3 separate regions of the Homo sapiens genome follow, and all the other regions are linked to region 3. Evidence: fine-mapped expression QTL. A gene starts in region 3. Each other region holds a variant in brackets. All regions are shown on one strand. Distances are between the middles of the regions. Region 1 overlaps KCNMA1 (potassium calcium-activated channel subfamily M alpha 1). Region 2 overlaps KCNMA1 (potassium calcium-activated channel subfamily M alpha 1). Region 3 holds the start of KCNMA1 (potassium calcium-activated channel subfamily M alpha 1).

What was found. PIP is the estimated chance that this variant, and not a neighbour inherited with it, causes the effect.
Region 1: its variant is fine-mapped to the expression of KCNMA1 in fibroblasts (GTEx, PIP 0.94).
Region 2: its variant is fine-mapped to the expression of KCNMA1 in skeletal muscle (GTEx, PIP above 0.99).

Annotation. Positions count from the first base shown.
Region 1 is chr10:77,341,022-77,351,658 of GRCh38, forward strand. The region is part of intron 2 of KCNMA1 (potassium calcium-activated channel subfamily M alpha 1); the gene reads right to left. It overlaps KCNMA1-AS3 (KCNMA1 antisense RNA 3), which reads left to right and starts at 9,851. Exons shown (of 6, transcript NR_126365.1): 1 at 9,851-10,389. RefSeq lists an enhancer at 9,253-10,452. The variant G/T (reference allele first, on the strand shown) is at 5,662.
Region 2 is chr10:77,487,984-77,498,620 of GRCh38, forward strand. All of the region lies in intron 1 of KCNMA1 (potassium calcium-activated channel subfamily M alpha 1), which reads right to left. Among named protein-coding and RNA genes, the nearest start is that of KCNMA1-AS3, 140 kb to the left of the region's middle. The variant G/C (reference allele first, on the strand shown) is at 4,705.
Region 3 is chr10:77,632,533-77,643,169 of GRCh38, forward strand. It overlaps KCNMA1 (potassium calcium-activated channel subfamily M alpha 1), which reads right to left and starts at 5,276. Exons shown (of 28, transcript NM_001161352.2): 1 at 4,733-5,276. The coding sequence starts at 5,110.

The DNA of each region.
Region 1 (10,637 bases), 290 kb before region 3:
TTAGGTCCCAGGGTCATGGCCTCTCTGCAGGGGGTTAAGCACATGGGCTTTGCACTCAAATTGACCTGGATTCTAGTCCTAACTCCTCCACAAAAGCTGTGTGATCTTAGACACCTCACCGTTCTGTATGTCCGTTGTTTTCACTGTAGAATGAAGTTGACAACAGCACTTATCTCATAGAATTGTTGCAAAGATTAAATGAGATATATCACACACTAATCTCAGTGCCTGGCACATACTGTCTTCTCAATACGTGTTAGCTGTCAAGATAATTTTCCACTTTCCCTTTCTGGGTCTAAGTCCTTCTATGAGCTTGTCTGTCTCATTTCCCAATTATTTCTCAGTGTTTTCTCATTTCCTTATCTCTGTAGCTCTTTCCTTCTCCTTTCTCTGTTTCTCCATCTCTCTGCATGTGTCTCCATTTTTGTCTGGCTTTTTCTCCCTCCTCCCTCATTCCCATTCAGGTTTACAGTGGAGAAACACAGCAATTTGCCTAATTTTCCCTCTCCCAGGTCAAGAGAAAGCCCTTCCCAGGCTCTCAGTCACAGTTCCTTAGACGTGGGTCCCCCAGATCCCCTTGTGTTCTGAAATGCCTGTGATGGGAAGGGGAGGGGATGGTGATGTGGTCTCCTGCCAGGAAAAGTTGCTGAAGGTTGGGGCTGGTGAAGGGGGTAGTGAGAGAGGGGCCTGCTGCCCTGCCTCAGGAATCACGTCCACTTCATGACTGGCTTTAGCAGCTGAGTCTAAAAGCTTTGGAAGGAAACGCTGGGTCCACCACTGGCTCCATTCCTGCCTCCCTTTCTGGCCTACCCCAGGATTCCTTGGCAGAACTTGGAATTTGGTATAGTCAGGGACAAACTCTTCTCTCAGATGCTTACTGTCCCAAATGGAAAGCAAGACCTAAGTGCATAATCCTAACCCACCATGGACAGACCCCTCTGGCTCCACAGCACCCAAAAGACCCCTCTGGTGAGGGGAGCAAGTCACCAATAATAACCCACAACACTTGCCCTGCACTGATGCTGCTTCAAAGGCCTTTCCTGTGCCAACCTACTGACATCCTTGCAGCTGCACCAAGGAACAGACTCCTCTTTCCCCATTTTACAAATGTCATGGCACATGGGGGCTAAGTGATATGTTCAAGGTCACACAGTTATAAATAGCAAAGACATGTTCCAATCTAAGCAATAACAACAGCAATAATAACAGCAACAGCAAAATAATATTAAGATAATTTTAATGATAAAAACACAATGTAGCATTTATTATATGCCAGGCACATGCAAGGGCTTTGCATCTATTAGCTCATTAAATCTGACGCCTACCCTGTGAGATAACTACTATCATTGTCCCCATTTTACAGGTGGAAGGGAAGGTCAAGGGAAATTCAGTCATTTGCCCAAGGCCTCGATACCATAAGAGTGTGGATTCAGGGATGTGCATGCTGCAGTGGCCAAGGCCCACAATCTTATGGGACAGCTGACCACCCAACCCCCAGCCAGATTCCTACAAGCCCCAGGAGTAAACACTCCCATGAAGAATCAGCTCAAGCTCACCTCCAGGCTGAGACAAAGGGTCACCAAGGACTGGCCACCACACGAATGCTTCTCCTTGGTCTTACAAAACATGAAAGGTGCTATTATCAGAAGCCATGCCTGCTTGCAAACTACAGAGGTGACACGAGGTAAATTCATTTCCTTCCTGTCAAGAGAAACTCAACAAGGGTATAATCAGAAGCTAATGTGTGTACTGTGATTGGGCCCATCACGGGGTGGCACATAATTGAACAAGTTCTCCATGCCTGGAGGAGCAGAGCCGAGCCCCATCACTGGGAAGTGTCACTCATCTGGCCAGCACACATTGGTTTTTAATAACATTATGGAAATAATGCTGCAGGGCTGTGGAAAGGACAGAAGCTTGAGGGGCAGGGCCTCATCAGGTCTCCGAGAGCTTTGACCTTGAGAAAGAACCTTCTGGCCCCATCCAGAATAGCCACTTTCCTCAGGGATCTCTCCTGTAGGCTTTGTGGATTTATGTCTCCTGGGCTTAAGGAACAGGGCTTGGTGTGGCTGAACCTTCTTGCTGAATGGATCCCAGGGGACCCCAGGTGAGCATTGAGGCCGGGTTCTCAAGAGACTGAAGGGGGTCGGGGGGTTACCAGAGAGAGGACAGGCCCTTTGCTTCCCCAGTAACTGTTGACAATGGTAATACCTCCATGGCCCCTACTATGAATCAGATAATTTTCTGAGGACTTTATGTATATTAACTCATTTAAACTGAAAAACAATCCATGTGATAGGTATTGCCATTGTCCTGATTGTATAGATAAAGAAATTGAGGCACAGAGAGGTGAATTTATCTAAGATCACACAGGTGGGAAGTTGTGTTTGAGCCCGGGCAGTCCATCATCCTAACCATACTCCCTACTGCCTCAATGAGCTGACACAGCCCAGCCCTGATAAAGGGGGTGGCAGAGGGGAGGGGGATGAGGTGCCTTCCTGGCTGTTGGCATTCATTTCATTCACATTTTTATCAGGCACCCCTTTCAACCAGATACTGCTGTAGGCACTGAGGATACAGTGGAGTATAAATAGATAAGAGTTATATTCTAGCGAGGAGACACAAATCCCATATAAATGTACAAATAAGACAATTTCAGAGAATGCCAAATACAATCAAGAAAATAAAACCAAGAGGTCATAGTGTCCGTGGCAGGAAAAGGTAAGTAAGTTATTTTAGAGAGGAGGAAAAGGTAACTTTAAGAACCAGAGACAACTGTTTAGGAGAAGGCCTAGCCAAGACTGAATAATTCATGTGTTAAGAGGTTTTCAATCACCTACCAAATACAGGAAGGAACCAGTCATTGAGGCTATTGAGAAGTCAAGAAGTTAGAGACCTATGAAGACAAAGGCAGCCTGGGCTCTGCTCCACCTGCCCACTCATGGGCCTAGGCATCAGAAGCTCCGCCATCTTGCACTGCAACCCTGGAAGCCACAGTCTCTTCAGTGCCATCAGGGAAGACAGCAACTGCACCACCACACACAGGCATCCCCTGCCCCAGCCCAGAAGTGATGCACATCCCTTAGTGCCTCATGTCCTGCCTAACAGTGGATGCTGGAAATTTACAGGAGCAACTGGAATATTCATAAGCCTAACTGCCTCGGCCACCAGCCCACAAGGGACACTAATGGAGACAGCAGAGTTGCGTGAGGGCTCACGAGCTAAGAGGTGGAACCCAGCCAGGCTGAGTAGAAAGTAAGCCATCGACAAGCAGGGAGTTAATAGGTTTTTCCAAATGAACGGTCCTTAATTTCAATTCATTGAGAGGTGAGGGATCAGGTGAAGGAAGCAAGGTGAAAAGGAGGATTAATCCATCCATCAAGGACCTTGGGTACTGAAAACATGAAAAGATGAATGCATTTGTGAGACATACTGATTCACTACCATGAGAAATAATTATCTTGAAGCTTATTTGGTCCCAGAATCAATCTTTATTTAACCGTACTTATTTTTGGTGGCTCATCCTGCTTGCCTCTCTTGGAAACTCAAGAAATGCTTTCTCTATTTTTTTTTTTGGGTAAATTCCAAAGACTTGCATATTTCATATTTTTCAACAGGATGATCTTTGTGTAGACTGACTGTCTTCCCTCTTCACTAGTCCTCTCTATCATTGGACCTCACCCGTAGTAATCACTCACTCCACAATCATCTTCTCTTGTTTCCTGCATCACTCATCACTACCTTAAAGTATTATTTATTGATTTATTATTTTTTTATAATCTGACTCTTCTATTGTAATATAAGGTGGGTAAAGACGGAGACCTTTCCTGTCTCCGTTGGCCACATCCCCAACACCACACCAATCAAGCAACAGACTAAGGACACAGCTAAATAAATGAACAAAAAGATAATAATAACAATCATGTGTTAGTCTTCATAACAATCTTCATTTATTCTTTTTGATTATTCCCATGTTACAAATGAAGAAATGGAGGCACAGAGAATAATTAAGTAACTTGCTCAAGGTTATACAGATATTGTAAAACAGCCAGGATTTGAAACCAGAGAGTTTGGCTAGAGGTTCCATGCTTTGTTGGTATAAATATTTAAGAAATATTTGTTGATTGAATGAATAATAAATAAATGAATGGCTTCCTTGTGTTTCCTGCCTTCTTTACCAGGGTTATTTGCCTTCAACTTTCACTGGACCCTCTATGTATCAGGCATGGTCTTAAATTCTCTTCACACATTATTCAGTTGAGGGTAGTCCCATCTACCATATCTCCATAGAATCGGTCCCAAGCCTGGTACTTAGAACTGCCCTGCATTGTCAGGCTCCCCCTTTGCCAGGTGGTGCCTCCCTAATCTGAAATCATGGACTGAGTACCTTCAAAAGAAAAATTAAACCAAAGATCAGGAGGAGATGCTTCTGACTTAGTGAGTCTAGAAGACCCTGGCCTCCCTTGCCCACTCTGCCCAGAAACTGAATCCCAGAGAGATGAAGTTATGGGTTTCATACCTGTGTCTGCCCATCAACCCAAGGGGGACAAATGCCAACATAGAATGACAGAGAGGGAAGGAAGAAAGTGTTTTTCCTAATTAATTGGCTCTAAAAGTGGAGAGGAACCAAGTTGGGTTATTATAGAAGCATCAGCGTCCGACACAGGTCTTCAACTGCCATGCAAATACCCCCTACTCTGCACCATGCAGTTCCCATGGTTTACTCTGTTGTGATGTAACTGTGCATGTTTCTACCTGAACCCATTGAACACGGCTTTGTGCTTGAACCTTGAACAATGCCTGGGACACAGTTGGTGCTCAATAAATAATGATGGGATAAATGAATGAGGGATCCCCATTCTCCTACCTACCTTGGCCTTGTCATCATCTCTCACTTTTGCGACTGCCAGATAACACCTAGCTCTATCCCCTTGAGCCATCCAAGTCTCAGACACATTCATATACTGACTGACCTTGAATACATACTCCCTTCCTGAAAGAGATGCTTCCCAGGACCCTGCATCATGGAAAATAGGAATATCATGGTAAACGTTGCTTTAATTGAACAGTGGAATCTATGCTAGTCTTCATGACGAACCTTGAAACACAAGAGTGCTGCAGTAACCATCATTCCTGAATTGTGGAACTTCACAGACTCAGGTTAGCCCCAAGTGATGCTTTGCTGAGCAATTTAAAACCCAGTCATGCAAAGCCAAGTGCTTTCATGTTTGAGAAACAAAAACATTTCAACTGCTCAGCACATCTAAATCAGTACTCCCTTAACAACCCACCTTGGTTCTTCCCCTTGATTCTGAAAGCCAATTTAGTAAGAAAAGCATATTAATAATCTTGCCCTCTCACTGGCCTTCCCTCCCTCCCTCCTATTCCAGCATCTTGCAGCTGGTACCTTGGGTCATTTGTTTTGTTTTTGTCCCTTAGGCTGAAGTGCGTCCACAGTTTTGAAACTGCTAACTAGAGTTTATATGGAAAATTCAGATTAGAAACAAATTCAAATGCACTCTCTCATTTTCCTGTAATACACTGGGTTTCTTCCCCCAATCAGCTAGAAGACTTGCTGGGTACCTCCTCATTGTGTCCTGTTGGAAAGTGTCTCTTCTGGTCACCTTGACTGTTAAATAAGTAAACAGACTCATTGGGGTT[G/T]CTGTGTCCTGTGACATTGGCACAGACTCTCACCCCAGCCAAGCATGCACATATCAATGGGCCACCATCTGTGGCAGAATTACCAGACCCAAGATGGAATTTGATGCATCTGTCCTGGTGAAATGGCATTATACTTCTGCCATATTCTTCTGGTTCAAGAACATTGTCCTCAAGCCCAAGGGACAGCCCTGTCCAGCATAAACATGATTAAAATGCCCATTGCCCGACTGCCCTGCTGACCAAGAAACATGGCCAAGCACAGAGTCTGCAAGCAGCCTGCATGTGGGTCTAAAGAAGAGGAAGGGGGAAAGTGTTTCCAGAAAGTAAGGTTGCCAAGATTTGAATCTCAATGTCACAATCTGGCTTTATGACCTTGGGTGAGTCCCTTAATCCCACAGAGCCTCAGTTTCCCCATCTGTAAAATGAAGAGTACCAATATCCTGATGTGTTGTGAGGATTACATGAGATCATTTTCGTAAAGCACCCTAGCACAGAGCCTGATACAGTGTCATTGGGAGCTAAGATTTACCAGCACTCATCATATACCAGGCCTTGTGCATGAACCCCACCTACATTATGTCATTAAGCATCACTGCATGCATAAGAAATGGGTGTTACCATCCCTATGTTACAACAGAGAAGACTGATGGTCAGAAAAGTTAAGTAACCTGCACAAAGGCAAGGAGGTAGAGACGAGTGAACTTAGGATTGGAACTCAGGACTCTCTTAACCACATGAAGAGAATCCAAGTGGAAGGTGCCTCCTACCAACGCTGAGATGAGGTTCGTGTCTGTGGGCCCCTGTCTGAGGCTGGTTGACAAGAAGCTTTAGAGAGACGCTTGGGGATGGCAGGCTTGCAGCCAGAGGCCAGGGTTTGACTCCTGTATGGGCTGTGTGACCAGGGGCCTCTTTACCGCTCGGGTGTGCTTCACCTCCTTCCTCCATAAGACAAGGACAACTGCATCTTCCCTGTAAGACTATTGGGAATAAAACAATAGGGCTTTGTGACCTTTGACCTAAGGTAGGATTCTTATACTACCCCATGCTCTATGACATGATAAGAAGACAGTACCAACACTCAGCACAGTGTTAAAAGATTCCAGCAAATAATAATGGATACTAACATAATAATAGCTACCATATATAGAATACATTATATTTCAGAAACTGTACTAAAACCTTAATTAAAGCACTTAATCCTCAATGCAACCCTGTGAAGTAGATGCTTTTTATTATCCCCTTTTACAGATGAGGAAACTGAGGCATGTAATGATTAGGTGACTTGCTCAAGGTCACAAAACTAAGTGCTGAAAACTTGGGATTCACATGGTTGCATCAAAACTTTATTGAAAGGATTGGTCAATCCAAGTGAACAACACATCTGGACTGTGCCCCATAGAAACAAGCATTTTAGTTTCACTAGAATCACCGGGATAAACAGAGGCAAGCTAACCCCTTTACTACAGGACATCTATGGTCTTTAACTTGTAAATACGAGGAAACCATCAAGAGGGAGATAGAGTATGCAGCCTTTCCTGAGCTTTGAGGGGCAACAGTGTGCTCTGACATACGATTCGAGATGTACCAAGTCTGAGTCATTTACCCTAAATAGAACAGCCTTCCATTGGCTGTTGGAAACACAAAGTAAAACCCAAAGAAGAGAGAAAGCAAAAGTGAAGAGGCCATTGTCCTCGATCCTTTATCTTTTGTTCTCTGATTCAGATCAGGAGAGGTGTGTATGCCTGCAGACCTGGACACCCGCAAGCCACATGCTGAATGAAGGCCCACAGAAGTCCCAAAAAAAGATGGAACCAGGGAAAGGAGGTCAGCCTGGAACAGTCCTGGGAAGCTGAGACCCAGCCCAGAACCTGCTGGAATCAATAGTCTTTAACACAACTGTGACATTAGCTTGGGCTGCTGGGATCCGTCTTGAAAGAAGAAGCTTTGTATATTTCTGCTCTTATTCCCCACAGGATCCAGAAATATATTTCTGTAATTCTTTTAGCTGATAAGTATGAAAAACAGAATTTTAAATATTCCAGTAGGGACCTGACAGAACAGGGCCATCTTCATTAGCTGCTGAATTTCCCAATGACTCCTAGAAATTGACACAATTAGACAAAATTAAGTGCTTCTGTCCTGAGGATAGGCCGCCACTGTTCTTTAGGGCATATCTTTGCAAAGGAAGGTGCTGGAATTCCTCACAAAAGCCACATCCCTCTCTCTCTCACACTCTTTCTCTGAGCAAATCTAAAATCTAGTGCCAAATTCCTTGGAGCTAATTCTAAAACCAGGAAAGCTTTTTGTAAGATTATAAAGATTGTATTGGACTTTGAAGATGAGTCCCTTTGCTCAGCAACTTACTTTCTTAATGCAATCCCTGAATTCTCCTTGCTATGCTCTGAATGTTTATGCCTGCCCACCCCCAATTCATACGTTGAAACCTCATCACCAATGTAATTATATTAAGAGATGAAGCCTTTGGGAGGTGATAACGTCATGGAGACAGAGCTCTCATGAATGAGATTCATGCCCTTATAAAAGAGCCTCCAGAGAGCTGCCTTGCCCCTTCCACCATGTGAGGACACAGCAAGAAAGTGCCATCTATGAACCAGACAGCGGGCCCTCACCAGACACCAAATCTGCTGGTGTCTTGACCTTGAACTTTCCAGCCTCCAGAACTGTGAGAAATAAATGTGCTTATCAGCCCCCCAAGTTTATGGTATCTTGTTACAGCAGGCCAAACAGACTAAGACATTCCTCCATCCTCCCATCGACTGGGCAAAAGGATAATATTACTTCCATTTCTATGGTGATTATGGAAACTCAGACCCAGCAAGTGGCTCCCAACCCACTGGGTGAGTAAGCAGGGAAACTGAGGTTAGGAAATGAACTCAGTTCCTTTTCTCCCCATCATCTTTTCTCCCCTATAAGAAACTTATCAGCAGTTCTTTTGCATGTAGAGTCAATCAGAAAATCATTAGCCAAGGTCAGACAAGAAACCACAGCTTTGGTTTCTTTGATTTCAAGGTTAGAATAAGAGCAATGGAACTTTAAAGAGCATGGATGGTAGTAACTGTCTCTGAGAAGCCAGCCACTCAAACTTTCCAGGCCCAGAATCAACATTTATTTGGAAAAACTTTTTGTTGTCCATTTTTTTAAAGAGCTCTAAACTTCCAGTGAGTCTTATGTAGATCTATTTATATGCCCATTTCTTCTTTTATTTTTTGAGACAGAGTCTCGCTCTGTCACCCAGCCTGGAGTATAGTGGTACGATCTCGGCTTGGCTCACCGCAACCTCTGCCTCCCAGGCTCAAGCGATTCTCCTGCTTCAGCCTCCCGAGTAGCTGGGACTACAGGCGCCTGCCACCACACCCGGCTAATTTTTGTATTTTTAATAGAGATGGGGTTTCACCATGTTGGCCAGGCCAGTCACAAACTCCTCACCTCAGGTGATCCACCAGCCACGGCCTCCCAAAGTGCTGGGATTATAAGCATGATCCACTGTGCCCAGCCTACATGCCCATTTCATAGGCAAGAATACTGATGCATAGGGCACACCACACTTTACAGGCACAAGAATGAACAAGTCTTTAGAGGGTAACTATTTCTTGTGCAAGAATCAAATGCAACTGCTGACACTTACAGTTTTATCACTGGTGACAGCATGAGTGGCTGAGTGAGCAGGATGAATCTTGAGCCTGGGGTGTAGACCAGAGCAGGGGCTTCCAGGTGCTCACACCTCTGGAAAGCAAGAGGAACTGGAACAGTTGGAGTTCAGAATAGGCTAAAAAATCTCCTGCCAGTCTTCACAGCAGAATCTCTGAGTGGAGCACACAGCCATTTTGAAGTTGGCCTACTTGGATGCCAGGGCTCAAAAATTCTAATGTGGCCAAAGAAACCTTCAGAGAACTACAGCAAATTCAACTGATAAATTTGTTCTACTCTAGAAAAGACACTGCCAAAATTCCAGTCCCTATCTATCAGGGACCTTGGATAAGTCCCTTCCCCTGCATGCATATCATCACAGACCATCCTCATATGGGGGTGGGGAGGGTGTCTCTCTCCCCTCTTCAGCTGCCTTCCTACCTCCAGGGGTGCACCAATTCACTGTGATGACCTCACAATCATGCCTGGTGATTATGAGGACTTAGTGGGATGATGCTCTGGGCAACCACAGGGATTGCTCACCGGTGACTCAGTGGTTGACTCAAAGGCTAGAGGGTGGTTTGGGGGTGGAGGCAGAGGTCCAGTGAGCTGGGCTCCACCCTTTCTCTCCCTGCAGTCCCAACTCCATTTTTATCTGTGCTATATGTTGGAGTCTAGCCAAGATGTCATTTGAACAAAGATTCTGAAAGATCAAAGAAAAAAGTTTGAAAACCACCAGGACAATGCTTTCAGGGGACTTTATCCAAAAGACTGCAACAATGTAAAGAGATACGATTGCTTTTATTACTGTGATATGTTTAAAGTATTATAAATTTTTTAAGAGCTTTGTAAGTGACAGAAGTGAAGACATGCTCATTTTAATGTTACCAGTCAACTCTGAGAAGACTAAAGGTCAAGGGACAATGAAAATGTGACCCTTACCAACGACAGAAACTCCCAGGAAGCCACAATTAACTCAAGACCACCAGGATATTTGGGGAAGTTTATCCTTCTGGAAACCAGAATTTCTGATTTGTGGAAAATTCTATAGATATTCTCTGCCAGACTCCAGCCTATTTGGTAAGCTGGCCACAGATGATTTAGAACACAATGACCCTGATACTCACTAGAGCTCTGAGTGTGGCTGGATAAGCCCATTTCAGCAGCATGTCAGCCCCTCCCTGAACTAGGCTCTGTCACTCAGATCTCAGATCTTAGGGCAGCTGTAGTCTGCCCCTTGCTTTCTTATTACCCCAGATAACCAATGTTATCCTCTGTTTTTCCTTCCTCCCAGGGGGAAAAGAATTCAGAACCCTAGTCTGAGTATA
Region 2 (10,637 bases), 140 kb before region 3:
TCATCAGACACCTTCTGCAATATGGGTTAACTGTCCTCAACTCTGTGAATATAGGCATATATTCATTCAATATATGCCTATTAATAAGCACCCATGCAGCAAAGGCCAGGTGGAGCCAGCCCTGGTCATTAGGTGGCCCAACGATGTCGACAAGATGGCAGACAACATGGTGAGTCCCTAAGCAGTTACTCCCAAAGACCCTCAAAGGCTGTTCTGAGCCAACAGGAAGAAAGGCCACCAAGTTGTGGCTGTGGCCAGCTGACTGCCCTTTAGGAGGAGCTGTGAGGATGAGATTTCCTAGCAGGAAGCTGCTCTGGGGAAGGGGGATGGCATCCTGACACCTGGGAGCAACAGCCTGGACCATGGATTGGGAGGCGGAGGGAATGGGGCAGGGCAGTGGGCCACCCACCTTGTGCCATTGGCTGCCGGACCCTGAGCACTGACTGGTTTGGAGCCTGGTGTCTGGGCTGGTAAGGAAGCAAAGGTGAAAGGGGTGTGGGATAAGGCAAGGTGAGGGAGCAGCTGAGCCAGCATCCCCTTCTGATCTGTTGATAGGCTCCACATCTAGGCCTCTTCTAAACAAAAAGGCTGAGCTGCCGGCTCAGCAGCAGCTCTGTGGGTGCACAGCCCTGCCCATCATTTCCCCCTGTATTAGGAACAACCGCCCAACTCTGGCCCCTGGGGCAGGCCCAGAGCCCAGGGGTGACGAGGAGACAGCACCTCAGCCCTGGAAGGTACCATGTCCAAGTGCTCCTCAGCCAGGGCAGCCATGTTCTCTGGAAACCAGTAGAAGTGCAGAGGACACTCTGTTCCCCAATCAGGGGCAAAGTTGCCACAACTTCTCCAGACTTGGTTTTCCAGGGCCATAGGTCACCTGCTGACACTTCATTTAAACCATTCTCCTGTTATAAAAAGGGACAGTTTGGCCAACCTCTCAACTTACAGGCCCTTTAGCCCAGTGTGGCTAGCCGGCTCTTCCCAGGCACCCACAGGCCAGGAGCTAGGAATGCCTGCTCCACTCAAGGCCCACCTGCCCCTTCCCATCTTCCCCCTCTAGGCAGAGGGGGTCATAAGGGTTGCAGGAGCCTCAGACAGGGGTAGATGACCCCAGGGCCTACCTGTGATCTCAGGGCGATGGGTAGAGCTCACAGGGCTGACAGACAAAAGATAGGGTGCCAGTTACATTTGAAATTCAGAATAAACAAGAAATAATTTTTTAGCATAAGTATGTCTCAAATATTGCATAGGGCATACTTAAACTAAAAACTAAAAACCAAAAACCTATCTTGCTTATCTGAAATTCAAATGTAACTGGACAACCTTATTTTCTTTTTATTTATTTATTTTTTATTATTTATTTATTTTTTTTGAGATGGAGTCTCACTCTTGTCGCCCAGGCTGGAGTGGAGTGGCACGATCTTGGCTGACTGCAACCTCTGCCTCCCAGGTTCAAGCAATTCTCCTGCCTTAGTCTCCCTGGTAGCTGGAATTACAGGCACCCGCTACCATACCCGGCTAATTTTGTTTGTATTTTTAGTAGAGACAGGGTTTCACCACATTGACCAGGTTGACCTCGAACTCCTGACCTCAGGTGATCCGCCTGCCTCAGCCTCCCAAAGTGCTGGGATTACAGGCGTGAGCCACCGCGCCTGGCCTGGACAACCTTATTTTCATTTGCTGAATCTACCATCCTTACTCTATCAGCAAGCCCAGAATAGGAAAACCTGGTTTTTCCAAAGCAGAGCTTAATATCACAAGAGAAAGAGCCTTGAAAATACTATAGAGTAAGGCCTCATTCACATGGGTGAGGTTGATAATTTACTTCACAGGTGAGATGACAGTATCAAGGTTCTGTCTGGCCTCTGGCCTCTGGTCAATTGATTCAAACTTTGGATCCCAGCTCTGGTGCAGCTGTGCTGCCTAACCTCAGCAAGTCACTCCCCCTTCCTGGTGGTCAGTTGTCTCATCTTCAGGTTAGGACAGAGTTTCTCAACCCCGGCACTGTTGACATTTTGGTCCAGATTACTCTTTATTGAGGAGGGTTATCCTGTGTATTATAAGATGAGCAGTGTCCCTGGCCGCTACGCACCGGATGCCAGCAGCACCCACCCCAATTTGCCAATGTCTCATGGGAGGCAAAATCATGCCTGGTTGAGAACCACGGGGTTAAATGACCCTATATCCTAATATCTAGGGCTCCCACCACTTTTAACAGTCGAGAATTATTGGGTTTACACATGAATTTGTGGCAAAGATTCCTCTTAAATATCCAACTCCCATAATGAATCTAACAGGAGATGTGAATGACCAGGGTTTGATTACATGTAAACTTTTTAAAAATGTATCCTCTACCTCACTCCCCTCAACCTCATTCCAGCATTCAGAAATTGACCTAGCCTGATTCCAGCAAGTGGCTCCAGCTCTTTGATGGCCTTACAGACAGCAATGACTTAATAATACTAAAAAATAAAATTATCATCACCCTGATTGAAGGGAATGATTTACTGGAACTTCTTGGGCAAACAGTTTTTGCTAGTTTAATATTAATATGACTACTACTAACGATAGAGTGTGTAGAGTGCCTACAACACGCTAAGACCACACTAGGTTATGTCATTTAATCTTCACAATAGACCTAGGAGGTTGGTGCTGTGCTTATTCACATTTAGCAGTTGAAAAGAAATTAGGCAGTTTGCCTAAAGTCACAGACTCTGCCTGTGCTCTTTCCAACACAGAAACAGTCTATTTACATACAGCTCTCACAGGAGTAGGGAAATTCATTCCTCCCTGGGCCTCCATTCCAGGTAAATACTCACAGTCTTTCATCTCCAGGACCGAAATCTCTAGGACCACACAGAACCCCAGTCCTTATAGGGCTGCCACGTACAGACAACACACTGGCTTGTAAATGTATCTTGACCTTGCTTTTACCTTGAACCACTCTTTGTAACTCCAGGGCCTACTGTAGGAGCCCTAATCAGCCCTACTGTAGGAGCCAGGCCCACATCAGGCACTCCCTCAATAAATGGTTGCTAAATAACTCAGTGTTCCCCCATTTCAAAGATGGAGACACTGAGGTCCACCTCTTTCCGTGCAAGTCATTATCTAAAAGAAAACCAACGCTGGCTCTCAGGTTTTGTTTGTCCTGAATCCAAAATCCCCCACAGTGCTGATTCACTTTGTTTTCTTAACTTGCTCTTAAGATCCCACATTTCCTTTTGTATTATTAGTGGATGGAGAGTTGATTGGATTTGAGTGACCTGGTTGCCTGGTGGCCCAAAGGACTGGCCCAGGAGACCACTGAAGAGTTCTAGAGCCTGGATCTGGAACTGGGGCCTGGAAAATCGTGTGTCCGTGCCCTCAGTTACTAGGTCACCTTGAGTGGGGCTGCCACATTGTTCCATGGCCCAGTTTCCCCTCGGACAGCATGCTGAGTGAGATTCCCCCCACGGCGTGCTATTATTACCTGGCACACCAAGGAATTAGGCCACTGCTACAATGAGGCCACCCCGCCCTCCAAGATTCTTCAAAATTCTGCTCCTTAGAGCAGGACAACAGGGCAATGTAGGGCAGTGGCTCCAATTTGCTGAGGACTGCAGGATGAAAGAGGGCATCTTGGGGTGACTGGGTGAACACTGTTCTGGGACACCCAGCTATGACAGAAGGGACCACAGAACAAAAGGGTGCAAACTGTGGGCCTCACCCTGGGGGGAAATGGGTTTAGAAGTCATACACACACACACACACACACACACACACACACACACACACCCTACATATACCACCAGGGAGTCTAATTTTAGTAGCCATTTGCCCCAGCAAAGCACTTTGCAAGTAGTTATTTTGAGAAATGGTATTAGCCATTCGGTTATTTTTAATGCCCCTTCTGTGACAGGCATTTGTGACATAAACAGCAGCTGAAAGACCATAAACCCATAGCCCTTAGATGTGTTCAGGGCCCAGGCAGCAGCCCCTTGGGATGTCCCAAGCCCAATTCAAATGGAGGGAATGGGCGAGCATCTTGTACGCCCTGCCGGTCCCGCCTCACTGCCTACTGCTCCGTTCACTGGGGATGGGCAGCAAGATTTGACTGAATGGGAAGCCCCTCTGGTCTGTGACAGCCAGTGTGCTAATGACAACCTTCAGTGCTTGCCGACAGAGTGCAGGTGAAAATCCACACTGCTAATGAAGGTCCCTCGTGGGCTGTCCCCAACCTGATGTTCTCAGACCCTGCTCCCAACACATGGCTTCCACACTCTCTGCCTTCCCACATCCTCCCCTCTGCTCAAGCTGACCTCTCATTTGGATCAGCCCACTCCTCATCTCTCATAACCCAGCCCCTGCTGATCTGCATGCTCTGATTCCCCATAATGAAAGAGCTGGATCACCTCCTTGGCCTTCTGCATCTAATAGCTTGAATTGTTGGCCACCTGTGTACTTGTATTTCTTATTGAAGCCACTGCATTTACTCTGTACTGAGGATGCACCAGGCATCATTCTAAGCCCTTAATGAAGTTCAGGGAACTTTCCTGAGGATCCTAGCTGGTATCATCATCATCTAGATTTTCGAGATGATGAAATGGAGGTATAGGGAAGTTACCCAAGGCTTCTTTGCAAGTAGTGCTCTAAGCAAGACTACAGATGCAAGAGCCTCACGGTCTAGGTCTAACCCTGGTTCTGCACCTTGGAACCATGGACAAGTTC[G/C]TCAGTCTGTGCCTCAGTCTTTCCCTGAGTTCCTGTAAAGATTAAATGAGTTAATGCTTATATGATCCCTTTACAGATGTCTGGCACATGACAGGCACTGTCTAAGAGTCCTCGCTTGTATGGGAGTGGAGAGGAGAGGCCAGAGTATTGTAAGGTAAGATGTATTAGTGCCTACAATGTGTTATGCAATGTACTAAAGCATTCTGCATGTATTATCATATTTAATGCTCATAATACCTTGTGAAATTTTACAAAGAAATTAAGCTTAGAGAAGTGAAATCATTCTCCTGTGGTCAAAGCCAGTGAATGGGGATTTGAACCAGGTAGCTGAACACAAGTCTAAGTTTATTAACCTGAATCCTCTGCTGGTTGTCTTGACTCTCTGGAAACTGATCATGTCTTCAGATTTCCCACAGTTCCTGGCACTAGGTTGAGCACTCTAAACAGATTCAATGCCAATTGCAGGCTTCTGACAAGGCTTCCTAAATGCAGAGCCCTGGCTGCAGATCAGGAGACCCTGGCCCCTCCAAGGGCACCCCGGCTAATCAGCCTCTTCTTCTGACTTCTGACTCCACCCCAGGACAGGCATGGTGCTTCGAAAGCAGAAGTAAGGCAGCAGAACACTTGGAGAAGCCTCGCTGAGGGCCAGGGCCTGGTGGTTCGGATGGCAGCAAGCTGCCCCCAGGGACCCAAAACCCAAAGGTCAGGAATGTAGTACTGGCCAGCCAGGGCAGGCACTGCTGTGTGGTAGAAGAGAAGTCCAGAACTGTGAGGCGTCAAGCGTGAGTTGGAGGCAGGATGGCAGTGAGAATGCACGCCCAACTGAGCGAGTGCGTGTGAGTGAATTATGTGTGTGGTTCAGTTTTAGGCACTGGGCAGATTTGCAAAGCTCATCACCCTCCTAGAGTTGCCTGCAAAAGGCCACATGTTTAACACCACGTCAATCAATCAACGGAGGTGCACTGGGTGGGGAGTGTGTGGCCAACCCAGCACGGGGAGCCGTGCAGCTGCAGGGAAGAGAGCATCTCTTTCCCCAGTGGCTCATGGTCATAGCCGAGGACACAAGACTGGCCCTTGTGGGAAAATTGAGGGGACCTGTTAAATGCTGACCTCTAATGTGGTTCCAGTTGAGTCACCATATTTCTTGTGAACCTCCAAAGCACTGGAAGACTTCTGGGCCTCGCGTGGCTGCAGGTGAAACATACAGCCAATCACTCCACCCTGGAGTCTTGGTTTCCTCCCCTGCAGAATGAGAGTGACGCTGATAAGACATCTCAGGCAGAGGCGAAGGAGGTGAGCCCTGTGGGAATTTCGGCTGCCCCTGTGCCAGGCTGAACAAGACAGGGCCTTTGCTTTCTGGGGGCTGATGAGTCATATAAAGGGGATAGAATCAAACACTCAAAAGACAATAACCGCAACACAGGGCTGGGTGAATAAATACACAACTGGCTACTCAGAATGGGATAACCATGGGAGAGGACTTTTAATGCCAAAGAAACTCACCACGTTGCCTTTGACTTTGAAAAGTGATCTGTGCTTAATCTGGCATTTCGCCAATTGGACCATGAGCAATGGGGTCCCAGTCCTCATTACCCAGTGCCTCCTTTGCTTCAGGCCAGGGCTGAATAGGTACTTAGGACATTCCTAAGAAGGACTGTGCAGGAGGAGGCTAGCCCAGCTGCCTGGCTAGCCTCAGCACACACATTCCCTGGAACAGCAGCCTCGCTTACTGCCAGACCCCACAGGGGTTTCTGCAGGGGCTGGACAAACGGGCACATGGGGATGAAAAGGGTAGAGTCCCCAGAGTCAGTCAATGTCAGTGAATTGGCAGCCGCTGCTCACAGAGCTGTCTGGATTCTTTGCAGCCCAGAGAGCACCTTTCACCACCCAGATGGGGAGGCCTTGCCAACCCTGAGCCCCTCAGGGAGGTCATACGTGTGATTCTCAGACACCAGAGGGAGCAGTTTTCCAGAGAGTGAAGAAATGGGATCCGGGAAGCTTGGTGAATTCGTCTGCTGGGGCTGCCATCATAAAGTATCAAAAACTGAGTTGGATTAAATAATAGAAATGCATTGTCTCACAGGTCTGGAGGCCAGAAGTCTGACATGGAGATGTCGTTGGGGTCAGTTCCTTCTGAGGGCTGTGAGGGCACATGTGTTCCAGGCCTCTCTCCTAGTTTTCTTGTCCTTCCTTGGCTTACAGATTCATCACCGCAATCTCTGCCTTCATCTTTATAGGCATTCTCCCTGTGTGCATGTCTGTCTCTGTGTCCAAAGTTCCCCTTTTTATAAATATGACACCAGTTATTTTGGGTTAGAGCCCACGCTAATGATCTCATCTTAACTTGATCATCTGCAAAGACCTTATTTCCAAATAAGGTCACATTCACAGGTACGGAGGGCTAGGACTTCATTATCTGTTGGGGAGACACAATTCAACCAATAATATTTGAGTTCCTCAAAGGAAAAACAGCTTTTTAAAAAGCCAAACTGAAATTCCTAACATTACTAATATACTGGAACAGAGTCCCAAGAAGTAGGCTCAATGTGTGAAGGAGCTTCCCGGTTCCAGCCCCCACGTTACCCCAGCCCAGGCCTTTGTGGCCTCCCGCCTGCACTGCTCTGTGATGGGCCCCTTGCCGGCTGCCCTGACTTGGCCTGTCTCCCTTCTGCTACCTCCGCATCAGGCTGCCACACCTTGCATCTCACCACCAGGTCCACCTCGGTCACGACACCTTCCTGGTCTAAAGGCCCCAGTGGCAGTCAACCACCCAGAGGGCTGACTGTGGCTCACTCCTTTTGACTTCAGCACCCTTGGTAATCTGCACCAACAGAAACATCGGCCAATGAGTGCCGTGATTTCTCTGCCCGTTTTCTCATTCATGAAAGGGAGAAAAAACGAACTCTCCATGCATCTACTCCCAACACATTCCCCTGAGAAGCCTGCGGGGAAGCTCCCTGGGAGCCCATTGCCAAAGCTTCCACCTCATGGAGCTGGCGTGTACACAGACAGGCACAGCCTGCCGTGCTGGGCCACCATACTGGTGACTGGCTGTGCTCTGGTCCCAGCCCAAGGGGTGGGCAAAAGAGGAAAGCCAGCCTCATGATGAGCAGAGGACAGGGAAGAGACCCCCACACCAGGGACTGACCCCTCCATTCCCTCAGAGGAAGCAGAGGCTACTGAGCCACCAGTACCCCCGCGGTTCCTCCCTGTAGTTGCTCATGGAAAGCCACCAGCCTCAGGAAGTCTTCCTGTGTGGAAGCTCACTGGCACCAAGGCAGGCTGAGCCCCTCTGCCAAAGGTTCTGGGCAGCCATCGGTCTGATAAAGACACAGAGCCCTCCTTGGAGGCCTGGAAGCCCCACCCCTAGAAGGTGGTCCTTGAAAGCTCTGTCACTCATTTCTTCTCCAGAGCCCCTGAAGCATCCTCCATGCAGCTGTGCCCACCTGACCATACAGCCTGGCCCTCCCTTAGCAGCACCCTGGACTCCATTCCTACCACCTCCTTGACAACAGAATCCTGTCTGTCACCCTCCTCACCAGGTGCGGGTCTTCAAGATAAGAGACCACCTCATGCATGTTACAAGGAATGCTCTAGAAGGAGCACCATTCAAGAAAGAGAGGACAGGGCCGGGCACGGTGGCTCACGCCTGTAATCCCAGCACTTTGGGAGGCCGAGATGGGCATATCACAAGGTCAGGAGATCGAGACCATACTGGCTAACATGGTGAAACCCCGTCTCTACTAAAAATACAAAAAAATTAGCCAGGTGTGGTGGCGGGCGCCTGTAGTCCCATCTACTTGGGAGACTGAGGCAGGAGAATGGCGTGAACCCGGGAGGCAAAGCTTGCAGTGAGCCAAGATTGCGCCACTGCACTGCAGCCTGGGTGACAGAGCGAGACACTGTCTCAAAAAAAAAAAAAAAAAAAAAAAAAAAGAGGACAGGTTGAGCGCCCTGTCAGACCAGTGGGCCCCCAAAGCTATATACCATGTTTGTTTACCTACTTGATTTCTCAACATCACTGTGAGGGAGCTATGAACATCCTCATTTTACATACAGGTAAGGTAACTGAAGTTCAGCTAGATTAAGTGTGTTGACCAGGACACAGCACTAGCAAGAGCCTGAGGACACCTGGCTCCTGCTGTCACCTGGCTGTCTTCACCTGGTGTCCCACAAGTACTTCAAACTCTGCTCTCCAAAGCTCTGCTCATTGTCTTCCCACTCGCCATCCTTACCAGCCCCTACCCACACTACCTTGCTCTTCCTGAATCCTTTGTCCTCACTAGGACACCACCCTCTACTCTGCTGACCAGGCAAACAAAAGGACCCAGGCGAACAAAAGGACCAGTGTTGCCCAAGGCCTCTGCAGAGGTCTGTGCATGCATCTCAGAGAGCGAACTAACCATGGGAGTTCAGCACTGATCCTATTGTGTCCTTCCACTGGCTTTTTGTCTGAGCTCCCACTGGAAAAACCCTGCATTCTTACTTGATGAATTTTCAAAAGCAGCCAGGGCTTTATTATCAACTGTCTTTTATGAATAATCAAAGTCCAATGGGGACTCCCTAATTAGCCTGGGCATGAAGGCCATTTGCATAACATATTGAATGCCTCTGGAGTGTCAGGTACCTCAGTAGACATGATGGTTCATGCACTAAACCTCAGCATGTGACCAAGCCTATGGCCAGACACAGATGAACTTGAAAGTGATGCACTGGAAGTCGATGCCCCTTGAGGGTGGGTGAGCTCACAGAGTCTATTCCTGACACTGTTGCTCTCACCTCGTGACAAAGAACCAATGCTGCTTTCTTGCATCCACCCCTGAGTTCCAGAACCCCCGCAGACAGGCTTCCAAAAACTGTGTCCCCAAACTAAGACTGTGTGATATGTAAGAAGAACTGGCAGGGGACCCAACCTATATTATAAAACCTCTTGATCTCCTAAAAGAGAGCTGAGTTTAACCCGACTTAGATCACCAGGACAGATGCTATCACAGAATCTTAGAATCTGAGGTTGTAATGGTCTTCTCCAATTCAATATCAAATCCAGTGCTCCCAGTCCTCTTCTCCTAGGACTTTGTATTTGAGGTGGGGAATAAGGGAGAAAGTGGAAGATGTGGCTAACTTGCAGGTGAGTAAAGGAGAAGTCAGGAAGAAGTAGTGACTTGTCCCCCAATTCCCACACTCAGGAGCATGGGCAGTGGAGGGAGAAGGATGCTGCCACTGGCTTCATTTACATTTGTCCATTTACAAATACCATGGCAACAAGAGCTCAGGCATGCAATGCCCTCCTGCCCAGATTCCTGCTTCAAAATCAAAACAAATCCAGTATGCCTGGAAAACCTGCCACAGCTCAGCAAACTAGGAACAGGTGCCATCAATGTGCCAAAAACCTAAAGGAATCTGAAAAAAAAAAATCAGTTATGCAGAAAAAGAGAAGGCAGGGAGGCCCCTTGGGCAGCTTTGCTCCCTGAGAAGCGGCAGGATGGTTGTGAAACAAGGAGTGAGGCCCTTGAAGAACCTCACATCAGAGCTGCCTACATCAGTAGGGCTGAACAGGGAGGTGAGCCAAGTATCAGGCACCGGGACTCCCTGGTCACTATGGATCACAGCAGTGTTCAGCAGCAGCAGCAGCTCTGAGAAGCCCTGGGAATCACATGGCAGATACATCCAGAAGAAAACTGGCCAGGGCAGGGGCTTGTCCCTGACACAGCAGGTGGCAGCTCCAGGAAGGAGGACAAGTCCAAGCACAGTTTGTACCTGGCATGTTGGCCAGGTTAAACAGCAAGCCAGATGCAAACAGTTGGCACAAGGTGCAGTGGCTTTACCAAACACAGAGAAGAAATATCACAGGATTAAGTTCCCCTTCTGGAACTATTCATGGTTCCAGCTCACTCACCCAGACTCACAGGTCTCTGCAAGGCTTCACTTCATCA
Region 3 (10,637 bases):
GCCAGGACCCCATCCGTGAAGCCTACCTCTGCTGCCCTGCCCTAACTTTCCAGCCTTGCAACAGCCAAGAGCCATAAGCCCATGTCTCAGTCTGACTCTAAATGGTTTTTTGATCTATGACAGTATACTTCAGGATCTAAAGCCTCCTTTTGGCTCAAAAACTTTATTTGTTATAGTCTGCGCCCTTCAGGGGCTATAAGTTCAATGAATCAAAGGGAAAATAAACTCAGCACTTCATGAAGCTATGATAGTTACCACTTACAAGAGGCCTGCTAAGTGTCTGGCATTTGCAGGGTGCTATGTGCCCATTATTCCTGCTCCCTATAAGAACCCTACAAAGTAAGCATCAGTATGCTCTTGGTATAGGTGATGTAACCAAAGCTCAACATGGTTGGCAGTCAAAGATGCCCTGCTAATAAATGTGAGATCCATGATTTGAACTTGGGTTTGCCTGATTGCAGAGTCTTGTACTAAAGTGTGCATTTCCATAAAGAGGGCCAGGGGCTGGACGCCGTGCCTCACGCCTGTAATCCCAGCACTTTGGGAGGCCAAGGTGGGCGAATCACAAGGTCAGGAGATCAAGACAATCCTGGCCAATGTGGTGAAACCCCGTCTCTACTTAAAATACAAAAATTAGCCAGGTGTGGCAGCGTGCGCCTGTAGTCCCAGCTACTTGGGAGGCTGAGGCAGGAGAATTGCTTGAACCCAGGAGGCGCAGGCTGCAGTGAGCCAAGATCGTGCCGCTGCACTCCAGCCTGGGTGACAGAGCGAGACTCCATCTCAAAAAAAAAAATTAATAAAAGGAGAGAGAGAGAGAGCAAGGAATGAGGAGCACGAGCTCTCTGGACAAGGGCAGGTCAGCTGGAGCTCCCCCGTGACTAGGACCCAAGAACTCCTCCAAGGCCACCCCAAGTGATCTGCTCAAAAAGGAGTATCTCAAGGTCATCTGGTGCAGCCAATCCCCAGGACAGGATGAGATGAGGCACAAGGGCCAATCTGGAATCAAGAGCTCCACGGCACTGAAGCTCCAGCCCTGATTGACTGCGTCAGGCCAGACCCTGGGTAATTACCAAGCTGTAATGGGATCTGATATTTATATTAGTCACGAGCCTGACAGAGAAAACGTGTTGTTTTCTCAGGCACAGCCATGGAGACAACATCTCGATAATTCATTACACGCAGACCATCCTTGATCAAGCCCAAGCTTCTACAAGGCCAACAGCTCAAACTGAGAATGGAAATAACTCTATGCCCAGCCACACTCAGGCCCCTCAACAAACCACAGCTCCAACAGGAAGTTGGCCTCAGTTTCCCCAGTTATTTAAAGAGAAGTAGACCACATGCTGGAAGACGAGCAGAAGATGGAAATAAAGATATGTAACTGTCCCAAGGCTGAATTCCTAAAGGAATTGCTAGGGAACTGCAAAACACATTCTGAGCTAGAAACTTTAACCCTCATTCCTCAACTCCTCCCTCTCTCCTATATCGAATCACAGAGCAGGAAGGGACATTAGAACTCACAGAATTCAATCCCCACATTTTATACACAAGGAAAGATAGACACCAGAGAGGTTAAATAACTTCTTCAAAGTCATGGCTTTATTCAGGCTACCAGAGCAGCTCCCTATTCAATATAGTCTATGACAGGATTGAACTTCACAACGTCACACCCAAGTGAATAGAGAGCTCTGATGAAATCCCACAAGGAAAAAAACAATAATGTGAAAAAGTACAGCAAAGAACACAGTACTGGAATGACTGTGACCAAGTTCCCAACAGGAGGAAATTGTAATGTTTTCTTCTTCACTTTCTGAAAAAGTCCACATGCCACTCTTTTCAAAAGACTAAAGTCATTCACTGTTTGAGATTCAGAGGCCAAAGGTACTAATGAAGAGATGTCCCACGATGCATGTCCACAGTCTTGGGTTCCTTTGATCAAAAAGGTTTGGTGCGATCCCAGAGACCAAACGCTCATGAAATTGGAGCTCCTTGCTGAATTTTATCTCCCACAGAATTTCAGACCTGCTTTCCTCTGGACTCCAGCTCTTGATCAAACCATCTTGGGGCTGAAGGAGGGTGAGGGTGAACCCATCTGAGGGCTGGTAGAATTTTCTGGAAAGGCAGCCTATGTTTTCTTGGGAAATCTAGCACAAAAATTATTATTCTAAGCTTAAGCCAAATACATGCCTGTGTATCGAGTCTTGACAAAACTACCAAATACTTGGAAAGAAAAAAGAAAAAAAGACAAACACACACACACACACACACACACACACACACACAATTGCAATAAAAATACAGACCTCAAGCATAGAAAGAAAAGCTTTTAAAAGGCCTAACTTACCGTTACTGCATATAATGAGCTGGCTACCTATGGCTTAAGTGAGCAAATCTAGGGGCAGGTATCAAGAGATTCTAGGTGTGCTTTAAAATGGACTTACGGTATCAAAAGGAACCTGCACTCATTCTATACTGGCCTCACATCTTCCAAACAAACCACCATCACCTCTCATCCCTGGCAGATTTCTTACAGCAACTCACTTCCAGTTATGTCCACTCAGCAGGTCTTGGGGCTACAAAACATAGCCAAATATTTACGAATTGTTTTTTCTAATCGTTGCCAAAAACCTATTTTCTTGAGTAAACTGACAGAAGTTATGCTTGCTCATCATTTAGGAGATCCTTTGTGTGTGCGATGGGATTAGCATTTCATTACAGACACTGCAATTGCATTTATGTACCCCCTAACATAAAAAGACTTTGGAAGCTGTGTTTAGGACCCCAGGTTCACAAAAACACCACAACTTATTTTCAATCATGGAAAAAGTTTTCATTATGATAAAAATTGCCCCCTGCCTGAAAGAAAGCAAGCTGTTAAAAAGTTCACCCAGATCACTCTATCTAGGGAACATTTCAGAGGCACACAACTATGAGCTATCTTTCCCCTAAAGACAGTCGCTGAATCTCAGTAAACCGGGGAACAAAATTCCCGAGACTGTTGGGGGAGGTGGAGGAGAAGGATGGAGAGAGGGAATGTGGGAATTTGAAGGCTCCAGGAATAAGCTGTTCTCAGCAGGAAGGCTAGTCAGGGATCTGGTGTATAGGGCTTTGCTTAACCTGAGGGCTTCTCTGGAAGGTGGGAGGTTTGCCTCCTTAACAAATAAGAAGAAACCTCTACGGCTGAGAAGGTAATTCCAAAGAAAACTCTCCGACCAGCACCTGCAGGCCTCCGGAGAAGCCAGAGAATGACGAAGAGAATGATGGTTTTCATATTTCTCCCTTTGTTCCAATACACCAGTATTTTCCAAAACACAAATGTGCTGCCACAAAACACAGCTGAGCTCCAGCACCCAACAGGATGTATAATTAATGATCAGGAGAGACAGGCTCCTTCCCCCCTGGTGTTTTCATAGCCAGCCTTCACCCATAGCCCCAGGCTTCCCTACTTCTCTCAGCCGCCAAGGAGGCTGCTACAAGTTGCTGTGCCCTGTAGAAGTTTGAGGGGTCCTCGGTTTAACTTTACTAGAAAAGATGTGAACATGTGGAGGCTGCAATGTGTATCTACCCTGCACTATTCCCCTGGATTTCCCTTCCCTCCAAAACGGTTCGCGCGTGAAGTCCCCTAGGATGGGAATTACTCAGAAAGAAGGCAGCTGGCTCACTCTCTTTTTTCCAGTTCTTTCTTTTTTATTCTGCAGTTTTCTATCAGTGTCGGGTCCCCCACTCCAGCCAGTGGCTGTGGGGAAGGGAAGACATCTCTAGGGACACGACTACAGACCAGGCAGTGAGCCTAGCAACCATACATCGAAGGTGTCGCCAGCCTCAGTGCCGGTGGGCGTCTGCACCAGGAATAGCTAAAGCCGACGACATCTAGCCACCTCGAGCGCCAGGGAAGACGCTCCGCGTAAAACCGCGGCCTCAGGCGGACTCCCGCTCCAGCTCCGCGCTGCTGGTGGCATTTCCGGGGACCCAAAGTGGGTGGCCTGGGGGCAAAGGAACAGAGGCCGAAGAACTTGGGGTATGTTCCACTAGAGCACCTAAGGGACGGAGTGGGAGGTTACATCAGATATGCGACCTCGACACATTCCAAAAGTGGCAGCCCCGTGGGCTACCCCCAATAGTGGGATGGATCTCCCCAACTTCTCTCGCCCCTCGAAGTCCCCCTGTTATCTCGGGCCATGCTCCTCCCCCGGGATTCCCTTGTGCAAAATTATTCTCTCCCTTGCCCAAAGGATTTTTCCCTTCTTTCTGACCCCACGAACTCATCTCCCCAACAGGTTCCTAAAGTATGGGCGGATGTGCTCCCTCTCGCCCACCGCCAGGAGCCGAGCCCCGGCAGGTGAGCGGTGCAAAACACGCACCCAGCTGCCCCCAGCTTCCTCCGTCCCCGCTGAGTTGGCTGTCCCCACCCCGCACCACGGCACCCGAGCCTGTGAGTCCCCGACCCCGGCCCCAGCCGCAGCCGCCAACAACCCTACAATAAACAAGAGGACAGGATTGAGCGTCCGCGTCCCGGAGCGCACTGGCTGGGGGCAACTCCTCACCCCCGGCGCGCCGCCCGCTGCCCCGATCCGAGAGCACCGGGAGAGCCGAGGGAAGGGAAGGCGGCGAGGGGAAGGCAGGCGGGGATGGAGGGAGGCACGGCGCGGCGCGGAGCGAGGAGGTGGGCTGCAGGGGACGCCGAGAAGCGGTGGGGCTGGCGCAGAGGGCGGGCGCCCGGGGCGCGCGTTACCTTCGTCTTGCCCCCGCAGTGGCAGCACACGGTCCACAGGTACTTGAGCGTCCGCCAGAGCAAGATGATGAAGAGGCCCCCGAAGAAAGTCACCATGGAGGAGGCCAGGAAAGCCCACCACATGCGTTGGCCCCGGCTGTCGCACGGCACCTCCATGGTCACCGGGATGATGAGCGCATCCATCTTGGGCTCGTGGACCGAGGACGAGGAGGAAGAGGAGGAGGAAGAAGAAGAAGAGGAAGAGGAGGAGGAGGAGGAGGAGGACGCGTCTAGGCTGAGATGGTTCGCGTGGATATTGCTACTCATTCTAAGACTGCTGCCTCCGCCGCCGCCGCCGCCGCCGCTGCTGCCGCCGCCGCCGCCGCCACCATTTGCCATAGCTAGCAACGGGCAGCCGGCGCAGGGGCTCGGGGGAGCTCCTCCCGCCGCCAGCGCCACCCCAAACACCCATCAACAGCCATATTGCTGCTACTGCTGCCGCCGCCGCCGCCGCCGCGGAGCGCGGGAGGGGGGCGGGGAGGCGCCTGGGCTCGGGGCGCTGTGCGCGACCTGGCGGGGTGCGCCGAGATATATACAGCGAGCCGCCGCCGCCCGCCCGGGGGGGAGGGGGATGGAGTGCGCGGGCAGCTCCCCCTCCCCGGCCCGCGCCCCGCTCGCCCCGGGCTGCGCTGGCCCCGAGCGCCGAGAGCCAGGGGGCGCCGCGGGCCGCCCGCGCCCGGGGTCTGCGCCGCCCCCGGGCCCGCCCCGGCTCCGCGCGCGGTCCCGGGTGTCCTCGGCGCCGCGCCGCCCGCCGTGCGCCACGGGTGTGCGCTGCGCTCGGCCGGTGACCCCCTTCCCCGAGCGCCTCCCGCGCGGCTAACGAGCCGCTCTCCGCTTATTAGGTGGTAACTCGTTAATAATGGATAATCGGCCCCCTCCGCCCGGGCGCCCCTGCGCCAGCCCTCCTCCCCCGGCTGCGCTCGGCTCCGGCTCGCCGCGCCAGTGCGCGCCCGGCCGCGGCAGGTTCACCGCGTCCGGCCGCCGGCCCGTGGCCGCCTGCTAGCCCATGTTCTCGGGACCCCCTAGTCCTGTCGCCACGCCGCTGAGCCCCTCGGCCTCCGCTCGCTCTTCCTCCTTGCCGCCTCCGACTCCTCCTCGTCCCCGTCCTCGCCGCCCAAGCCTCTTCGGCGCGCGCCCCGCGCTCCCCGCAGCCGCCAGCAGCAGCAGCTGCAGCAACTGGAGCGGGCGCGGACTCAGGACGACCCAGGCGGGAGGGGAGGAGGCTCGCCGCGCTGGCTCGCCTGGGCTCCGGGCTGGGCAGGGGTGGGCAGGGCCCCTCGGCAGCGGCCCGGCAAGCGCCCCTGACCCCCAGGGCGCAAGGTAGAGCGCCCCCAGCCCAGGCGCGGGGCCAGGCGCCTCTCTCCAAGGTGCTGCGCCCCCAGCCGAGAGCGGTGGGGTACACTGGGAGGACGGCGGGGCGCCCCGGTCAGGCCGTTTTTTTCCCCAAAGAGCCCCCAGTGGGGAGGGGAGGAGTGGCCAGCTGTCAACTGGATTCCACAGGCTGAGCTCCCCAGGACCCTCGGGCTTCGGGAGTGAGGAGGACCCCACGCCAGGATACACACAGCTACCCACCCCTACTTCGCTCTTCCTGCTACCTATGTGCCCAGGGTCCCGCGTGTGGCTGGAGGGTAGAGTCAGGAAGGCCAGCGGGTGGTCTGTGGCCTCTGACAGCAGCAGGTGGTTTCTCTCCTTTTTCCTTATTAGCAACAGAGGCTGCCCAACAAAGAGTAGGCAGAAATGATCAAGGACGACCTGGCCTGGGGATAGTGCAGGCCCCGATAGACAATAGAGTTCCCTGAAGGGTTGCTTTCCTCTCATATAGTCTCAGACTCCATCCATCCCGTGAGGAGGGCAGATGGGGGAAGAGGGACTCCAGACTTCATTCTGGCTCACCGTTCCCCATTTAGGGTCTTCCCTTCTCCCCACTTAAGATGAAGAAGGAGTCCGTGTTTGTTCCGTAGCGTGTCTCCGTACACCACCAGGGGAATCCCCCTTCTGACACTTTCAGAAACTTTGCGCCCCCTGAACAGCGTCCGTCCTCGTGCTACCAGCTGGACCCCAAGTTTTTCCAGCGCTAATTAAATCGAGGATGATCACGCTCTTCCCTCATTGCTGCAGTGGTTTCCCCAAAGTTTCCAGCTCATTAGTTTAAGCCTAATTGGAATTCTCAGGTTCCTTTCAGCTCTTCCCATGGAAAAGGCCCAAGTTAGCATCCTTAGCTTTACACCTGAGGCTGTCTCCGTGAGAGTCAGATCAGCCCTGCCCTTGTCCTTGGAGGTCTCTGGAAGGAAGAGCGAGCAAGGGAGGCTGAGCTGGGCAGAGAGGCTGAAGAGGATGTTTGAAGCTTCTCTCTTGCTTGATTCGGAATACATTCATTGGGTTTAGAGTACACATCCACTAAGAAAGAGTCAAGGCCAAAGTCAAAGGAGAAAATGGAATGAGGTAAGAGTTCTTGAGTATTTGGTTCTCAAAAAGAAGTGTATGTAAAAGGGAGCTGCAGAAAGTGTGCTCCAGAAAATGGAATTGTCTGAGCCTCCTCTCCATACCATCCCATAGTACCTCCAACCTCGGCCTCTGTGTTCAGCCACTCTGAATGCATCCCTGCCACACCAGACCCAAGCATGCAAAGGCCCTGGGCCTTTTCTGGTACTGGGTTGGGGGAGCGGGACCCAGAAGTGCTGTGGGGATGCGCAGGAAGGTGACTATGGCATTGAGGTTCCTTTATTAGCCTCTCAATGGCTGTAGTTTGCTGCTTTTGTGCCTCAGCAATGCCAAGAAAGTTAAGGACATTCCTTAAATCAAGGCCAAGATTTGAAATTTAAAAATAAAACACCCAGAACATAAAAAGGGCAGCAAAGGATAGGACTGTCTCCCCAGTGGGATATGAAACCTCCAGAATGGATTCCCTCACCCACAAAATTGAAATTTTGCAAACCAGCAAATCCCCTCTGGGGCCTTCTTAGACATTCCCTACAGCCTGGATTCCCCTGAAATGCCAGTCTGGGGTCTACTGGTAAGCAGCCGATGGCCGTGACTTCTGTCACCCCAACTGCAGGATCTATAGCTTTTTCTCCTCCATCATCACCTTCATCACCTCAGCATCTTTGGAGAGGGTGCTTGGAGGCCCCTCAGATGCCATCTCCTGCTCTCTTCATCACCCCTGCCTCTGCTGATTGAAGCTTTTAGCAACTTCTGTGCTGTCCAAAGCCTCGGCTTAGTCAGGAATCATCAGAAACTCTCAGTGTTGATGTCAATATCCTTTCCTTCCTACAATCCCCAGTCTCTCACCTCCTCCCTGAATGGCCTGGCTGGTAAGCACTGAGAGAGTGCTACCATCCACCAGAAATAGACATTCCCAGGCCTTTGCCCAGTTCTCTCTGGCCATTTCCACATTGTTCACAAACTTTTGCACCACTTCCAGAAAACTTGGCCCCTGGCATTACAAATTTAGGAAAAGGCTCTGCACAGACAGAACCTCAAACTTAAAAGGAACCTTAGGTATCTTTGATTTGATGTGTTTCTTCATTTATACAATCAAAATAAAGCCAGAAACTTCCCTGCCTACCTCGAAGGGTTATATGTGAGGATGAAAAAGAAGGCTGGGCATGGTAGCTCACTCCTGTAATCCCAGCACTTTGGGAGGCTGAGGCGGTGGGATCACCTGAGGTCAGGAGTTCAAGACCAGCCTGGCAAACGTGGTGAAACCCCATCTCTACTAATAATACAAAAATTAACTGGGCATGGTGGCACATGTCTGTAATCCCAGCTACTCGGGAGGCTGAGGTATAAGAATCGCTTGAACTCGGGAGGCGGAGGTTGCAGTGAGCCGAAATTGCACCACTGCACTCCAGTCTGGATGACAGAGTGAAACTGTCAGAAAGAAGAAAGAAAGAAAAGAAAGAAAAAAGAAAAAGGAAGGAAGGAAATATTATACAGATCTTAACTATAATTACTGTGACCCCAAAAATGGACAGGCAAGTCTAACCAGATCTTCTGACCCCTGAGCTCGTAATTGTATGTGCACATGCCTGCATGTCATGCTGTCCACAGCATGTCCACAGCCAGACTGTGGCCAGACTCCAGGGCACAGCAGAGCCCCTCCAGCCTAAATGAGCTCTCTGACTACCCAACACCACTCCTTTTCTTGCCAGTCCCTGGACAGCCTTGGAAATGGGAAAGGTATAGAGAAGCACTCTAAGCCCAGCACATCTTCCCCTAATGTAGGTGTGTCTGCAGGCTGGAAATTGAGGTCCATTGCACAAGAACTGAAAGTCTCAACAGAAGTAGAAACTTCACCCTCTGTTCTGAAAACACCACGAGCCTTATTTTTATTTCTAAATTCATTCAAAAGCTTCCCAGAGAGAAGGGCAGCCTCTGTACCATGTGCATGTGTGTCTATGGCAGCTCTCAAAGCAAATCAGAGGTTTCAAGCTTAAATATTCTAATCTGAACAGTCCTAACTGATTTAAAAGAAGTAAAAGGAAGTGCATAAACATACATACTAAAAAAGCAGAGTGACTAAGGTAAAAGGAGAACAAAAAAGATTATTTGCTAAAATGTTGGCCAGCATCGCAATTAATGTGCAATGGATTTTCTTTTCCTCCAACCTGGACCTAGTTCCAATACTCTGACATCAATCTTCGCGATTTTGCGATGGAGAAGCCAGGTGGTGACTCTTTAAATGATCTAGCGCCCTCTGGTGGATTTTCCTGGCACATGACATTATTTCATGAATGTTCAAAAAAGGGACTTAATTTAACAGTCTGAAATTTGAGATATGAAAATTCCAAGAGGAAAACCCTGCTGGAAAAAAAAAACTACAGGGAGTAGGAAGGAGGCATGGATCAGGAAGATGTTGGTCCAAGGATACAAAAATTCAGTTATACAGGAGGAATAATTTCAAGAGATCTAATTGTGCAACATGGTGACTACTGTGGATAAACAATGTTTTTTTGTATACTTGAAAACCACTGAGAGATTTTAAGTCTTCTCATCACAGGTAAATGATAAGTATGTGAGGTAATACATGTGTTAATTTACTTAAGTTAGCCATTCCACAATGTATGTGTATTTTGAAACATCATGTACACCATAAACACACTTTTTGTCACTTAAAAAAATAAGAAAAATTGATAAAAAAACAACAAAACCCTACAGCTTCAACAGTATGAATTATCTAGTTACCAGTCCTACCAGCATATAAGCTGTTGTGGATAAAGGCAGCTAACAAAGTTCATGTTATTACTATGACTTGATGTCAGATCTCAACTGTTACTGCCACCAGTAACCCTGCCCTTCCTTGAATCACCACTGTGTTTTCTTTTAAAGTCAGCAGTATCCCTCTTTCTAACCACCCTTGGTCTTCACAGTCTCTTTGTGAAGTAAAAAAGTGCAGTAGTGGCCAGGCGCGGTGGCTCACGCCTGTAATCCCAACACTTTGGGAGGCTGAGGCGGGCAGATCACCTGATGTCAGGAGTTCGAGACCAGCCTGGCCAACATGGCAAAACCCCATCTCCACTAAAAATATAAAAATTGGCTGGGCGCGGTGGCTGACGCCTGTAATCCCAGCACTTTGGGAGGCCAAGGCAGGTGGATCACGAGGTCAGGAGATCAAGACCATCCTGGCTAACACAGTGAAACCCTGTCTCTACTAAAAATACAAAAAATTAGCCGGGCGTGGTGGTGGATGCCTGTAGTCCCAGCTACTTGGGAGGCTGAGGCAGGAGAATGGTGTGAACCCGGGAGGCAGAGCTTGCAGTGAGCCGAGATTGCGCCACTGCACTCCAGCCTGGGCGACAGAGCGAGACTCCATCTCAAAAAAAAAAAAAAAAAATAGCTGGATGTGGTGGCGCATGCCTGTAAGCCC